Regions from separate parts of the Homo sapiens genome. Here region 2 is linked to region 1. Evidence: fine-mapped expression QTL. A gene starts in region 1. The other region holds a variant in brackets. All regions are shown on one strand. Distances are from middle to middle. Region 1 holds the start of EPHA2 (EPH receptor A2). Region 2 has its middle 16 kb from the start of FAM131C.

Region 1 (8,320 bases):
AGACTCCGTCTAAAAAAAAAGGAAATGAATGGAGGAAACTAATTTAGAATGTCACCATCAAATGTGAGCATCTAAGGCCAAGCACAGTGGCTTACGCCTGTAATCCCAGCACTTTAGGAGGCCGAGGAGGGCGGATCATGAGGTCAGGAGTTCAAGACCAGCCTGACCAACATGGTGAAACCCTGTCTCTACTAAAAATACAAAAATTAGCCAGGTGTGGTGGCGTGCACCTGTAATCCCAGATACTCAGGAGGCTGAGGCAGGAGAATCACTTGAACCCGGGAGGTGGAGGTTGCAGTGAGCTGAGATTGCGCCACTGCACTCCAGCCTGGGGGACAGAGCAAGACTCTGTCTCAAAAAAAAAAAAAAAAAAAAAATTAGCATCTATTGAGCAGAATGTGTGGGGAACTGTTCTACCTGTTGCTGGATTCATACCCTGCCTCTGAGGGATTTACAGTCTAGTTGAGAAGATAGTTCAGAGGCTTTGAAAAACAAAAAAGAGTTCAGTTGGTTGAGAGCAGGGTGCTGGTAGGCATGTAGCATGGAGGCCCCTGGGGCTCTAGGGGGGGCCTGATCCCTGGGGGTTTCACCCAAGAGGTAGTAATTAGACTGACCTTAAAGATCCCAGCTGCGGAGAGTTGGCACATTCCAGGACGGGGCACTGCTCTCCAGGTTCAGTGGAATTCAGAGGCAATGGTTGAGGCAGGTACCCATGAGAGTGCGCGCTGGATCTAGCCTGTCTGGGCCAGAATGCCAGCTCCAAATTTTACTTCCAAATTTGCTCTTCTGCAAAATGTGGGCAGGAGCAGTGGCCACCTCCCTGAAGGTGTCATGAGAACTAAGTGGATCAGTACAGATAAGTGCCTAGAACTGGGCCCGGCACATAGTAGTGCTTCATAAGTATTGGCTACAGTTTTTTTCTTTGCTTTTCTTTTTTTAAAAAAATTTTGTTTTGAAACAGGGTCTCACTTGGTTGCCTAGGCTGGAGTGCAGTGGTGCAATCACGGCTCATTGCAGCCTTGACCTCCTAGGCTCAAGCAATCCTCCTTCCTCAGCCGCCCGAGTAGCTGAGGCCACGGGTGCTCACCACCATGCCCAGCTAATTTTTTTTCTTTTTTCTTTTGTAGAGATGGGGTCTCACTGTATTGCCCAGGCCGCATTATTTTTTTTCTGATGCTCTTGGCCAAAGGCAGGCACAGATCAAAGGTGGGGTAAGTGAGGCCATGGCTTCAGCATTCACCTTTGTCATCTCCTTGCCCCCAGTACCCAGCCCCAGCTAAGTCCTAGCAAAGGTGGGCCCCTAAGCAGGCTGGTGGGCCGGAGGCAGGGATTGGCAGGAGAGGCAGTCACACACAAACACACACTCACTCGGGCTCCACCTGCCTGTACAGGAGCCTTGTCTGCTGCAGTGGCGCTGAGGCCCTGAGGGCTCCTTGGGGCCTTTATGGGGTAATTCCATCTCCATTAGGGCTGATTATGTCACTATAAATACCGCGTTTTGGTGCCGCTTTATAAGACTCACTGAAGAACTTTCCTCCTTAGCACCCAGTCACCTAGAGCGGGAAAGACTCTGAGTCGGACAGGAAAAGAGGGAAGGGTGTGTCATTAAATGGGTGACTAAAAGCCAGGGAAAAGCCAGGTGGAACACCCTCTTGCCACCACCTGACATACCACTCCTTTCCATAGGCCTCTGTTCACGTCACATGCTGCAGATGAGCAACACCCTGCCCTATGCTCTCAGCCCCCAACTTGTGCACATACTGCTGGGCACACGCCCCACAGCCATCAGGGCCTGCCTGCACCCCTGCCGTGTGTGTGCTTGGATTCAACCTTTTGAGGCCACACATGGAAACCCACACTTGCCACCAGAAGGACCAACCAACACTACACACAGAGACTTTCACGCAACACAGAACTCGCAACACTGTCATTCACTCATTAGTTCATTCATTCAGCGGAGGCTTGCTGAATATCTAGTATGTATCAGGCACTGTCTGTTTTCTTTTTTTGTTTTTGGCTCTCGCTCTGTCACCCAGGCTGGAGTGCAGTGCCGCGGTCTCGGCTCACTGCAACCTCCACCTCCTGGGTTCAAGCGACTTTCCTGCCTCCAACTCGAGCAGCTGGGATTACGGGCATGCGCCACCACGCCCGGCTAATTTTTGTATTTTTAGTAGAGACGGGGTTTCACCATGATGACAAGCTTGGTCTCAAACTCCTGACCTCAAGTGATCTATCTGCCTCGGCCTCCCAAAGTGCTGGGATTACAGGCGTGAGCCACCGCGCCTGGCCCAGGCACTGTCTGTTTTCTACAAACATCCCTGTCCTCCTGCAGTGTGTCCTCTAGTGACACATCTGACAGATGGAGCCTGCAAGTGGCATGTAACACACATGTACAAGCAGTGGCTTCCACACAACTCACATGGAGTCTTACACACGCCAGTGTCCCTAGCCCAGAGGCTCCAATACAACATGCAAAACACTTATCCAAACCACGTACTACACACATGCTCACACTCATCCACACACCCCATGTGCCTGTCCACAGAGCCCTGGGCACAACACATGCCCTGCTCTCCACGGATGTGGCTTCCTGTTGCTGAACCGCATGTAACCCAGTAACAGCTGAGATTTCATGCGTGCTTTCTGTAGTCCTGGCCCCTGTGGTTTACATGCATGACTTTATTTGATCTTTACAGTAACTCTCCTAAATAGGCTTTACATCTTTCCAGGAGCAAACTGAGGCTCAGAAAAGTGAAATAACTTGTTCAGAAACTCATGGGCTGACTCCACATCTACTGTGAAGTATGGCACACTCACAAATACATGCATACACAAATCCACACTCACATGCACTCATACACAAATCTCTCACACCCACATGCACACTCATACACACATCTAGACACATCCACACAATCCACAAAAACACACACAGACACACACTCATACCCAAATCCTCTCATGCCCATGCACACACACTTATACACACATATACCAACACTTTTTTCTTTTTTTTTTTGAGACAGAGTCTTGCTGGCCCAGGCTGGAGTGCAGTGAGTGGCGCAATCTCGGCTCACTGCAATCTCTGCCTCTGGGGTTCAAGTGATTCTCCTGCCTTAGCCTCCTTAGTAGATGGGATTACAGGTGAGTGGCACCACGCCCAGCTAATTTTTTTGTATTTTTAGTAGAGACGGGGTTTCACCATGTTGGCCAGGCATGTCTGGAGCTCCTGACCTCAAATGATCTGCCTGCCTCGGCCTCCCAAAGTGCTGGAATTACAGGCCTGAGCCACCCTGCCCAGTCACATACAACACTTATGTCCATACACACACTCACACACAGTCATACATACATCAACACTCTCATGTCTATACACACGAATGCACATTCAACAAAATCTCACACCCTCATACACATGCACTTATTCTCACAGGCACTTGCACACTCACAGGCTCTCAGAGGACCAAGGCTCTCCTCCCATCCTCTTGGTCAAAGGCTTTAATTATCCCCAACGCCTGTAATTAACCCTTCCTCTCTTCCTGCAGGAGAGATGTCTGGACCCGCTTCCCAAGAGTAGGCACCAAGGCGAGAGGCCAAGATGTCCACATCCGGCAGAGAAGACCCACGTACCTGGGTAGCAGGTCCCGGGCATCAAAGCGAGGATGGGGTCAGAGAGGAAGAGGTAGGCAAAGGGAGTCTGGGGCCTCCCAGGAAATCAGGCCTGCCACAGTTGCTCTTCCTGGACTGGTCAAATGGTGATTGGCCAACAGGCAGCCGTGGGTGGCTGGGCAGGCGGGCCAGAGCAAATTTCCCGTTTGTTTCACTCACACTAGCCGCTTCTGTCAGGAAGGGAGATGAGCTCATGTCTGAGGAAGTTTTGTGAAGAGGCCTTATCAAGGGGCAGGTGGTAGGCAGGTGTCCTCCAAACTGTCAAAACCTATCAACCCATGCCAGGGTCGGGGGCCAGGGGTGCCCCTTGCCCCCTTCCCCAAAAAGAAGCAGTGGTTCAAGCAGAGACCACCAGGATTCAAATCCTGCTTCTACTACCCGTGAGCTGTGCACCCTTTGGGCATGTTGTTTCTGCTCTTGGAGCCTCAGTCTCCTCTTCTGTAACATGGGGATGATGACCCCTGCCTCCCAGATGAGAATTATTAATAAATAAGATAGTGCATGTCTGATCCATTCCCAGAGGAAATGAACCTATTCTCAGATCATAGTAGGCTTATAGGCTTCTGAACAGAGATACTCTTTTTGACCATCAGCAGCTTGATATACTCTTCAAGGGTTTTAGGAAGGAGGGCATCCAGGTCTATTTCTGGGCCACTCTCTCAGGCCTGCTGCTTAGGAGGCAACTGCTTATTGGACCCCCAATCCATTTCAGCTCAGACCTTCAGGCCAGCGTTGAGCTCAGTCGCATTGAGCTCAGTCTCAGAGGTGAAGGGCAGAATGGGTATGGCTCAGCGCAAAACCATTAAACGTTTCCACCGAGGATACCAGGCTCAGAGATCCCTGGGGGCTAATCCGTAGGGGCGCTGGCGCTTTGAGACGCTCAAACTTTGGAAGGCCTGCGGGGAGCCCGCGAGTCCAGAGGGCCCCAAGGTCCTCCTCCAAACCCCTCCGGACTTCCCCTCCCTCTCCTCCGGGTGCCAGCCCGGCCCCTTTAAAGACATTCCTGAGGGCGGGCGTTGGTGACGTCACGCAGGGCATGAATGAACAGGAGTCGGTTCTCACCCAACTTCCATTAAGGACTCGGGGCAGGAGGGGCAGAAGTTGCGCGCAGGCCGGCGGGCGGGAGCGGACACCGAGGCCGGCGTGCAGGCGTGCGGGTGTGCGGGAGCCGGGCTCGGGGGGATCGGACCGAGAGCGAGAAGCGCGGCATGGAGCTCCAGGCAGCCCGCGCCTGCTTCGCCCTGCTGTGGGGCTGTGCGCTGGCCGCGGCCGCGGCGGCGCAGGGCAAGGAAGGTGAGTGCGCGCGGCGTCTGGACCCCTGGCCCCCGGGCCCCAGTGCCCCCTAGAGCCCGGCGCTCCTTGACGCGCGCAACTTTGGAACCTACCTGGTGTCGCCCAGTCCCGGCGAACTGGAGTCCGGAGGGCGCACGGGCTGCGATCGAGGCGAGCCCTGGCCCCCACCCGGGGTCATAGGGGCTCCGGAGAATAAGCGGTTTCAGCTTGGTCGCACGGGCCTCGGAGGCTGCGGAGAAGAGGACGCGGCGCAGGCCACGCGGTTGCAGTCCAGGCGGCGACTTCGGGAACGCGTCCCGGCGGGGGGCGTGGGGAGTCCCCTAGAGAAGGGGGTGTTTGGGCAGCTTTCCGCGGGCTCAGCTTCTTAGTGACCTGAATTCACTAACCCGCTTGCCGAGGTTTTGCGGAGAAGGCATACTGTGCAGGCCTCGCATTTTGGGGAGGGGGCTCGGGCGGGCGGGAGCCCCCTGTCGAAGCCCCTGTTCCCTGAGATTTTCTCCACGCCCCCCTTCACCTCCAGTCCCGGGGGAGAGCGTGGAGATAGGTTCGGGCCAATCCCTGCTCACACACTCCTTTCCCTCCTTCCCAAGCCGCACTCCCGGGCTCCCGGGGCAGGTTAGGGGCCGCGAGTGCGGACAGGAAGTCCCAAAGTCAAGCGTTCTGAGCAAGGGTGACTCAGAACGAGGAAATGCGGCAGGTGGGGGTGCGGCCTCCCAAGGTGTGGAGCTGTCAGCCCAGGGCCACCAGGGAGTCAGGACACCCGGGGGTGGGGGACTGAATCACCCACCCCCGCCCCAGTGTTCCCGGAGCCGCGCCGAGTGAGGGGCCGCAGACTTTGCTCATGGCGCAGCGGGTGCGTGGTGGGGGTGTTGTCCCTCCGCTAGGGTCAGGGCGAGGATGGGGGCTCCTGCCCTGGCCGAAGACCTTCCTGTCCACCCAGCCCAGGCCAGCTTCAATTTCCAACAGTGAGGGCAAGGCTTCCCCTCCTGCCTGGGCAGAGCGAGGTTTCCGCAGGCTCCACAAGGGGGAAGCCGGGAGGAAACTTGGGCCGGTGAGAAGTTTCCTTCTTTTTTTTTTTTTTTTTTTTTTTTGAGACGGAGTTTCGCACTTGTTGCCCAGACTGGAGTGCAATGGCGCAATCTCGGCTCACTGCAACCTCTGCCTCCCGGGTTCAAGCTATTCTCCTGTCTCAAGCCTCCCTAGTAGCTGGGATTACAGGTGCCCGCCACCAGGCGCGTCTAATTTTTGCATCTTTTAGTGGAGACGAGGTTTCACCATGTTGGCCAGGCTGATTCTGAACTCCTGACCTCAGGTGATCCACCCGCCGCGGCCTCCCAAAGTGCTGCGATTACAGGCATGAGCCACCACCCCCGGCCTGTTTCCTTCTTTTTCTGCCTCCCAAACTGGGTTTGGAGGTTTTGCTGTTCTGTGTTGGGAGGAAAAGAGGCCGGATCTGGAGCCGTTGGGCAGTGGCAGGTGTTGGGGGTGGCATCCTGTCTCAGTCTCTGGAGTGACAGGGCCCGGGTTGGGGTCTCAACCGGGACTTCTGGTTGCAGGAGCTCATGGCAAGGATTTCTGCCACCCTCAATATCCGCCCCACCAACGTTTGGTCCTCCCCCTTCCTGGGGGACTGTGGTTGGAGAGAAGGGGAGAGACAGCTGGAATCACTATAGGCCTTTCTCCTCGGCTGCCCATGGGGGGGTGGGGGATTAGGCGGGTGCTTTGCTGCTGCAGTCCCCAAGCTGGCCTGGAAGCCTGGAGCTGCCTTGTCCTTGTCCCCTGTGTCCACCTCTCCCCAGCCTGTGTGATTAAACCCCACCCCCACACCCCATGGGATGCAGGGGGAAAGGCTTGTGTATTGCACTGGGGTGGGGGTACATTTTTGCTTCGACTCTGAGTCCCCGTGAAAGAGTCCCTAGAGAAGTGTGCCTAGGTGGGGGTGGGCATGATGGCCTAGCTGGCAGCTGCTGGTTTCAGTTCCTGGGAATCAGGCTGTATGTGGTGGGTCTGCCTGGGGGTGGCTTAGGGGGCAGGCAGGAGGACACAGGTGCCTTTTTCACCTACCCCCAGGCTGCTTCAGACTTCTTTCTTGCCCCCTCACCCCTAGGCTATACTTGGTTGCCCACGTGGCTCCTGTTAGGTCATCAACAGCCACTGAATCTGCCCTCATTTTTACAAATGGGGAAACTGAGGGAGGCCCGAGCCCTTGCCAACCAGGGCCTTCTGGACAGAGGACCAGACCTGAGCATCCCGCTTCTTGGCTGCCAGAGCCAAGGCCCTGCCTGCTTTGTGGTTGGTGTCATGGTAGATTTTCCTGGGAAGCAGGCATAGCTGGGCAGGGGCCTGGGCGGGTGGCAGGGGGTGCTGAGCTGGGGTGCTGCTGATGGGAAGAGGGCTGGAGAGTGCCAGGAAGTCCTTGGTTTCTGGTTCTACCGGGGCCAAGTCTGCCCTCTGTCCCCTTTCCCTTTTCTTTCATGTTTTCCCCAGAGTCCCCACCTCCCTGCTTCCTTTAGGGATTAGCTAGTCTTGGTTAGAGAGGAATGGGGGAAGCGGGGAGGGAACCACAGCCTCGGAGGCTGCGGAGAAGGACCGGAGACCGGGAGTGGGTGGCAGTCCTGCATTTGTGGAAGAAGCTGTGGAGCAATGTGGACCCACAAAGATGGCACTTACGGTGGAACTCATGGCAAAGAAGGAGGTGTTTTTTGCTTTTTTTTTTTCCCCCCAGAAATGGGAAGGTAAGGGGATAGAGAGCTCATGGATAAGCCCTGCTTAGCCTAAGCCTCTCCAGGAAGCCGTCTGGGTCAGCCGAGGGGCTCCCAGGCTCCCACCCTTTCCAGAGAAGCGGGAGCCTCTGTCCCTGGAAGAACCTGGGGAAAGAGCCGCGCCCGCGTCAGGGCGGAGGGACCCAGCGCTGGGCGCCTCCTGTTCCTGGTGGTTGGTTCGAGGGAATTTCCCTGGGAGGGGGCCGGGGTTGGAAACCCCTGCAGGGGGGGCTCCTTCCTGTGTGAGGGCTTCTTTTCTTCTCCGATTGAGCCCTGTGCTACTTCTAGAGCCAGGCCTAGGCTGGAAAGGGAGGGCCCTCCATGCCAGGTTAACCCTTCAGAAGCCTGGTAGCGGTGAGCCCTCTCACTTGGGCACAGACCTCAGCCTCCTGTCAATCTAAGGGGGGGCTGCAGGACTGTGAGGAACCTTTGTCCTTCTACCCACCCAGCTGAAATCAGGAGCCTCCAGATTCCTTCCTGTGTAGCTGGAACATTCCATTTGCTAGTGGGGTTAGTGAGTTTCAAAGCCCCGGCCCTGGGCATGTCTGAACAAATCCCTGCCCCTGCCCACCCCGCTGCCCCCAGCCACCCTCCCC
Region 2 (8,321 bases), 67 kb after region 1:
TGCCTTAACTCCCTGGGACTCAGTTTATCCCTCTAGAAAATGAGACTATTCCAGCCTGGACAATAAAGCAAGACCCTGTCTCTACAAAAATAAAAATAAAAAAAATTAGCCAGGCGTGGTGGCGCATGCCTGTGGTCCCAGCTACTCAGGAGGCTAAGGTGGGAGGATTGCCTAAGCCTAGGAGGTCAAGGCTGTAGGGAGCTGTGATCGCGCCACTGCCCTCCAGCCCGGGCCACAGAGTGAGACCTTATCTCAAACAAAACAAAACAAAACACACACACACACACACACACACACACACACAAAACAAAAATCAAAACAAAACAAACAAAAAACAGAAAAAAGAAAGAAAATAAGACTATTGCTGGTACGTAAAACAAATTAATGCCTTACTCCCAGGGTTGCCGTGAGGTCAAATGGAAAACTCAGTGTACAGGCTCAGGCACAGAGTCCAGTACATGCCACCTGGACCTCCTAGGGGTCCTCTGGGCCTCCTTAACCACCTCTGCCTAGTGGGCCCTTTATTAGTAGAGAACCAGGGCCCATTCCAGGTTCAGCCCGCTCTGGAGAACAAGGCCCCCGCCCCACAGCCCAGGGAGCTGAGACCCCAGCTGGTCCCCAGGCAGATCTGGGAGTGCACAAAGCAGGAGGAGGAGATCCTGGGGTTTGGGCCTCCCTCTCCGGTCTACACTTTCAGCTGCTCCGGAGGCTGGACCACGTGACACAGTAGCGAGCCGGTCCTGCACCATGGGATCACCTTGCAGGCAGCCCAGCCCCTTGCTCCCCCAATGCTGCCCAGGTGTCAGCTCCATCGCCGCAGGCAGGGTGCTGCGTTCTTTGGGCTTGAGACTGACCCTCTATATGCTGGGGGGATGCCCTTCCAGAAGTGACGTTCTGTGACTCTCTAGCCTTCTCCGGAACAGCGGTGGTGCCAGTGCAACTGCTAGGCCTGGAGAGGCAGAGAAGGCACCAGGGCTGTGGGGGTGGAAGAGGGCATGTACCATCCTGCCTCTCAGGTGTGGAGGAGGGGGTGGTGACAAGGAGGGTGTGAGAACAGCACAGAAGGAAGTCTGTGTACCCACAGACTTCCAAAGACCACCAGAAACACACCTGGACAAAGCTGGATTTACTGCTCATTGATACGAAGGAAGACGCACACCTCAGGAAAGGGAGGGGTGTCTAAGAGGGTGACTGGGAGGTGATGGTGGGAGGGCCCTTTGCATGGGCTTGAGTGGTGTGGGTGGGGGCTGTGTGCCTGGGTGGACCCACACAGGTGTAGATGTGTATATGTGTGTGAGCAGGACTCTGACAGCGGGGTGGGTGCACGTTCATGTGGGCAGGTGTGATGCCTCCACCTCGGTGGGTGGGTCTCAGAAGCAGCCTGAGTTTAGGGTTCAAACCGGCCTGAATTATCCCCAGTTGAGCTCCTTTCTGGCTGTGTGACCTTGGCCACGTCACTTGCCCTCTCCGAACCCCATTCATCCCTTCCACAAGTACACCTTGAGATCTTGCTGTGTGCCGGGAGCAAACAAGGCAGAGAAGGTCCCAGCCTTCATGGAATTGGTGGTCTTGCCTCAGTTTCTCCATCTTTAAAGTGAGGGTGGCAGTATCTGTCTTCCAGGCAACATCTGTCAAATGCAGGGCATCGGGGCCAAGTGCTCAGTGGAGGTCTGTTTTCGTCCTCCTTCTGGAAACCTGGAACTGCACGCCTTCTTCCAAGGGACACAGCTCTCAGCTGGTGGGTAGAGAGAGCCAAGCTCCCTCCGCTTAAGGCACGACCTAGTTCCCAGACGGCCCTTGCTCTGTTGTGCTGGCGAGGGCCCTGGGAGGGAATGGCAAAGCCATCTGGGGTGGGTGGGTGAGACAGGGGCCTTGGCATTCCAAAGAGCTGGGCACCTCCCGGACAGTGAGGGGCGCAGGTCTGGAGGACAAAGATCCGTTGTGGGCCCCCATCAGAGTCCCCCACACACACCCAGTACAGGCACCAGGCACCGATGTGGGATGGAAACTCCTCCAACAAGTTGGGACACCCTCTTTCTCTGGGTAGGCGGGGCTCACGGGGCAGGGACTGGGGATAGAGCAGAGGAGGTGGCTGCCAACCTCCCACTGGGCAGTTGTTTACACCCAAGTGATGAGCTGGCTCTTGGCTTCATCACCTGCTCACCTGGCCAGGTGTGCCAGGAGAGGCTGGCTGTTCCTGCCTGGCCCAGTTGGCATTCAAGGTTCTGGCTCCGCTGGGACAGGGCACGAGACTGAAGGGGTGACCAGAAGAGGACGACTGCAGGTCTTTGCTTAGAACCCGATGTCTGATTTCCTCTCTGCCTGATTTCCCTCACGTGCCCACAGCAGCCCTGGAGTGTGAGGAGCTGCAGTTCCTTTTGCAGGGGAGGCTGGCAGAGATTTAGGGCACCCCTGGCCCAGAAAGGATGATGCCCTGCAAGAGGGGTTGGTGACCCCTCTTTTCCACATCACTGAAGCGTTGGGGGTCTTGATAGAGGTGGCTGCCATCTGCCAGCCCAGCAGGCAGGTGGAGAGGAAGCAGTCTGTACCCAAAGTAGGAAGGACTCAGGTTAGACCCAAGAGAGTCATTGCAGCCCACGGAGGAGTTCTGGAGTCAGAAAGGGATGCTTCCTTGCAGGACCTGCCTTTGGTGGGGTTGGGAGGTGGAAGAGAGGCCAGGACAGATGGAGGAAGGGGGTAGGTCCCCTCTCCCTCTTGCCAAGTGAAGAGCATGTGGAGCCTGCACCCACCTACCCACACCCATTTCCCTCCACATTGCCAGCCAAGGGAACCCAGGCCTAGGAGTTGCACAGTTAGAATTGTAGGGAGATCATGAGCCAGTTCCTTTAACTTCTCTGAGCCTCAGTTTTCCTCTTCTGTATGATGGGCAGCATGTATTTGACTCTCAGGGCCTGGGTGAGACCAAACTGTGTACCAGGCACTTCGTATGCGCCATGCACAGTGTACCAGGTACATCATATGTGCCACTCACAGTGTACCAGGCACATCATATGTGCCACACACCCTTGTACACAGTGCCCTTGGCTTCTTCTTCTGAGGCAGGCACCATTATAGGCCCATTTTACAGATAAGGAGATTGGGGTAGGGCACTGGGTAGGGCAGGAGATGTCCATCCTATGGGTCCCTTTCCTCTCCCAGAGAGCAGGCAAGTGAGGCAGGGTCTTGGATTGTGGCATGCAGGAGAGGCTGACGGCTCAGCTTGGGCTTGCACTGGCTCTGGCTCAGGGGGTTCTTGTAATCTAGGCAGGGTGTTCTCTCCTGGTCACCTTCCAGAGTTTCATTTCTTGAAGCAATGCGTCACAGCTGCAGAGTTGGTCTCCCCTAATAAGGATGTGAGAGCACTGGCAAGCAGGTCCCC[G/A]TTCCTGCTTCCTTGCATCTGTTTCTGGGTTCTGGGCATCTGTGGCCCAGGGTGTTTTGTGCTATGGTGTCCAGAGAGAGAGACAGGAGGCTTTCTTTGTTCTGCCTCAGTTCCAACCTTACTTTTGTTATGTTCAAAAGACAAGAGGGATGGACTTCACACACCATCAGGTACACAGTGGGCCATGCCATCAGGAAGAGGACCGGCTGCCTGACCCCAGTGCCTGCACCTCCAACCTCCCTCCCTCCCTCCCTCCTCCCTTCCTTCCTTCCTTCCTTACTTACTTACTTACTTACTTCCTTCCTTCCTTCCTCCTTCCTTTCTTTCTTTCCTTCTTTCCTTCTTTCTTTCTTTGACAGAGTCTTGCTTTGTTACCCAGGCTGGAGTGCAGTGGTGCGATCTTGGCTCACCGCAACCTCTGCCTCCTGGGTTCAAGAGATTCTTGTGCCTCAGCTTCCCAACGTGCTGGGAGCCACCACCCCCTCCCCCTCCCTTCCCCTCCCCTTCCCTTTCTTTTTTATTTTTTGAGACAGAGTCTTGCTTTGTCACCCAGGCTGGAGTGCAGTGGTGCGATCTCGGCTTACTGCAGCCTCCACCTCCTGGGTTCAAGCGAGTCTTGTGCCTTGGCCTCCCAAAGTGCTGGGATGACAGGTGTGAGCCACTGTGTCCGGCCTCCAATTTCTTTCTTTTTCTTTCCCCTGCCATCTTTCACAGGCATCCATTAAACCTTATTCTGTCACCCCTCTTCTATCATTTCACTGAGGTCCAAGCTGTGGCCTCCTCCTTTCACCTGGACTCTACCCACCTCCCTCTAGCCTCCAGCCTGGCCCCTTCCTGCACTCTCATCTGATCACCTCCTGCCCCAGTGCTGAATCCTTCAACAGCTCCCCTTTGCTTCCTGATGCAGTCCTGACTAGTGGCTCTGGCATTCAGTGCCTGCCCTGCGGAAACTGGCCAAGCGGTGAAGTACGTGGGCCTGCGGGGCCTTCCCCTGATAGCCAGTGTCCAGGCGCTGAGTCAGCCCTGTGTGTGGAGGTGAGGGAGGCAACGGTTGCACGAGTCGCTGAGGGGAACTGAGGCCCCGAGAGGGGCCTCAAGTCCCATGCTCCAAGTCCTATGGTGGGGAAGCTCAGCAGAGGCCCTGCCCCTTTCCCCTGGGTCTTGCCCCTGCAGGCACTGGGCCCCTGGGAGCCAAGTGGCCCATGGGTAAGGCTGAACCCTCCTCCTGCCCTGTTGGCTTCTCGAATCCTCATAAATCAGAGGTGAAGAGTGGGTGGCATTCTGTGCAAATCACCCTCAGTGCTGTGTGTGCCCATTGGCCCCGCTGCCCACCTGCCCACCTGCTGCTCCCCGGGGCCATGCGTATCAGGGAAGTAACGAGCCCAGCTACCCCTCACAGGCAGGTTCGGGGCACAGGTCCCCAAGGACTCCTCCCAACTCTGTCCCAGGGGAAGCCCACAGCTCGGCCCACTTCCCCCTCTCTGGGCAGTGAGGTCTCCACCCTGGTGCCCACCCTCCTGGCCCTGCCCAGGCGGCCTCCAGCAGGTTGTTTTCCCGGCTGGGCCTGGCTCAGCCTCCAGGGCCTGCCGGTCACGTAGCCAAACTCGTTCCTCTTCTCCTACTGCCCAGGCTGCTGAGCACAGCGGTTTCCTGCTGGGGAGAGCACAATGGAGCCCACCCCAAGGGAGCCACCCAGGGGAGGCGCCACCCCAGCGGGCTGTGAGCGCTGTGTGACCCAGGACTGGGCCCACGCCCTCTCTGAGCCTTGGTTTCCCTACAGAGAAGTGAGGAGGTGAGGCGAGGTCATGGGAGGCCACTCTCCAGTAGTAACAGCCATCTTTCCCTGAGCACCAAACCTACGCCAGGCCCACAATCCCCATGTCCTCACCGCCAGCCTGCGGGGCTGGGACAGAGTGAGGTTTATTCATTTGGTCACAGCCGAACCTCCTTTTTCTGTCCAACATCTCAGAGCTTCTTCCTGTCTCCTGTTTAGGAATCTGCTCTCCCTGTCCCCACCCCTGCCCTACCTCCCCCTCTTCCTCCCAGGAGGTGCCCAGCCCGGGCTGGGGTGGGGAAATGGGAGGAAGTGTTAGAAAGTACAAATTAGATCAGGGGGCACCTGGACCAAGGTGGTCCTGGTCTGCCCGCCCCAGCTGGCTGGCAGGAAGGAGAAGGTTTGGGAGCTGCGGGGAGAGAGACTGTGTGGGGAGGCACAGGGAGGAGGGAGAGGGACTGGGGAGGTTCAGAGGCTGAGAGTCAGTGGCCCTGCAGGGTTCTGTTCCTGCCTCCTCACCCTCCTGCTTCCGCCCTCAGCCCCAACAACCTCTTACTTCTCTTCCATCTAAAGCCTGGGACCCAGGGCCTCTCAATGGTGAGGAGGAGGGCTACCCTCCCCACAGTGACACCGCCCCAGGACATATCAACGAGCGGCCCTAGGCAGAGAGGACTCCCCAAGTTCTCACGACCTCATTGTGCCTCCCCAATTTAAAGCCATGTTGATGGGCTCCATTCCCAAGTCCTGGGTCAAGCTGAATTAACCCCAAGTTGGAGCACTGGAAAACTGTTATTTGCAAATATTATTGTTACCATTTAGAAATACGTGCACAACCTCTTTTGTCTTTAGAGAAAACTATCCACCTATAAAAAACTACCTTGACAAAAACAATTCTGGTTTGACTGATCATTTTGTTTCTTTTTTTTTTTTCTTTTGAGATGGAGTCTCATTCTTGTTGCCCAGGCTGGAGTGCAGTGGCACGATCTCAGCTCACTGCAGCCTCTACCTCCCAGGTTCAAGTGATTCTTCTGCCTCAGCCTCCTGAGTAGCTGTGATTACTGGCACCGGACACCAGGCCTGGCTAGTTTTTTTTTTTTTTTTTGTATTTTTTGTAGAGACAGGGTTTCACTACGTTGGCCAGGCTGGTCTCAAACTCCTGGCCTCAGGTGACCCACCCACCTCGGTCTCCCAAAGTGCTGGGATTACAGGTGTGAGCCACTGTACCTGGACCATTTTGTTTCTTTTTTTTTTTTTTTTTGAGACTGAGTTTTGCTCTTTTTGCCCAGGCTGGAGTGCAGTGGCGCGATCTTGGCTCACTACAACCTCCGCCTCCCGGGTTCAAGCGATTCTCCCTGCCTCAGCCTCCTCAGTAGCTGGGATTACAGGCATGCGCCACCATGCCTGGCTAATTTTGTATTTTTAGTAGAGATGGGGTTTTACCACGTTGGCCAGGCTGGTCTCGAACTCCTGATCTCAGGTGACCCACCCACCTCGGCCTCCCAAAGTGCTGGGATTACAGGCATGAGCCACTGTGCCCGGCCTCCCATTTTGTTTCTTTAAGCGGTAAGTGTATGCAGTGTGGGTCCTGGGCGAGCCAACCTTGCACCGTGGATGCATTTCTACGTCCACGTGCTATTCGAACAGAAGGCACCCTAAATAGAAATGTTGCTTTGAAGCAATATTTGCAGAACATGCAAACTTCTGTATTTGTATTTGGAAAAAATAAAACAGGTTCTTGTTGCTTAAGGAAAAAAAAAAAAAAAAAGAGCAAGGTGCCAGGCACAATCGCTTAGGCTTGTAATCCCAGTACTTTGGGAAGTTAAGGTGGGAAGACCGCTTGAGCTCAGGAGTTCAAGACCAGCCTGGGCAATATAGCGAGCCCCATCTCTACAAAAAACTTAAAAAATTAGCCGGGCGTGGTGGCATTACTACTCAGGAGGCTGAGGTAGAAGGCTTGTTTGAGCATGGGAGGTTAAGGCTGCAGTGAGCTGAGGTCAAGCCAAAAAAAAAAAAAAGCAAGGCCAGGCATGGTGGCTCGCACCTGTAATCCCAGCACACTTTGGGAAGCTAAGGTGGGAGAATGGCTGGAGTCCAGTAGTTCAGCCTGGGCAATATAGTAAGACCCTGTCTCTATTTAAAAAAAAAAAAGTGGCCGGGCGTGGCTCATGCCTCTAATCCCAGTACATTGGGAGGCCAAGGTTGGTGGATCACTTGAGGTCAGGAGTTCGAGATCAGCCTGACCAACATGGTGAAACCCCATCTCTACTAAAAATACAAAAATTCGCCAGGCATGGTAGCACACTCCTGTAGTCCCAGCTACTTGGGAGGCTGAGGCAGAACTGCTTGAACCCTGGAGGTGGAGTTTGCAGTGAGCTGAGACTGTGCCACTGCACTCCAGCCTGGGTGACAGAGAGAGACTCCATCTCAAAAAAAAAAAAAAAAAAAGGCACAGCCCAGACTCTCCACCTGACAGTGCCATGGTGTGTCCCCAGAAAAGTGGGTCCCCAAAGCGGGACTTCCTAAGAGCACTGCTGAGGTTTCTGGTGAGAACCAGGGACATGGGGAGGAGCAGTCCTTCCTTGGCAGGGCCTGGGAGGCTCCCTTGAAGGGAAGAGGAAGTGACTACCGTCCCCAGAGCCACATCTCTCCCCTCCTCAGTCCGAGGCCTGGCAAACACTCCTGAAGCCCACGACCCCCAGCCCTCCAGGATCAGAAGGCTTGACCTTGCCTTCACTCAGCCCTGAACTCCATCCTGGCCCAGCCAGGCCCTGGAAGTGTCAGCAGCAATTCAACCCTGAAGCCCAGGGTCCACAGAGGGAGCAGCCCCAGCCCAGCTGACCCACGCTCTCCTCCTCCCCTCCTATCTCCACCTCGAGATATGGAGACCTGTGCTCTGGATGCCCTCTCAGGCGATGGAATTTGGAATCCTAGCACTTGCCTCTTAGAGCCTCAGTTTCCTTATCCGCACAACCATCCTCTAAATAATCCCACTTCCTCAGCTGGTCGTGAGGACGAAAAGGGACAATGTTCATGAGGAGCCTCACCCAGCAGGTACAGAATCATATGAATGTTTATTTCTTTTTTCTTTTCTTTTTCTTTTTTTTTTTTTCTGAGATGGACTTTCACTCTTGCTATCCAGGCTGGAATGCAATGGCACCATCTTGGCCC

Evidence for each region. PIP is the estimated chance that this variant, and not a neighbour inherited with it, causes the effect.
Region 2: its variant is fine-mapped to the expression of EPHA2 in whole blood (TOPMed, PIP 0.97).

The regions. Positions count from the first base shown.
Region 1 is chr1:16,152,490-16,160,809 of GRCh38, reverse strand. EPHA2 (EPH receptor A2) reads left to right here and starts at 4,741. Exons shown (of 17, transcript NM_004431.5): 1 at 4,741-4,962. The coding sequence starts at 4,878. It overlaps EPHA2-AS1 (EPHA2 antisense RNA 1), which reads right to left and starts at 5,595. Exons shown (of 3, transcript NR_187275.1): 1 at 5,055-5,595; 2 at 3,631-3,839.
Region 2 is chr1:16,085,235-16,093,555 of GRCh38, reverse strand. No RefSeq gene overlaps it. Among named protein-coding and RNA genes, the nearest start is that of FAM131C, 16 kb to the right of the region's middle. The variant G/A (reference allele first, on the strand shown) is at 3,380.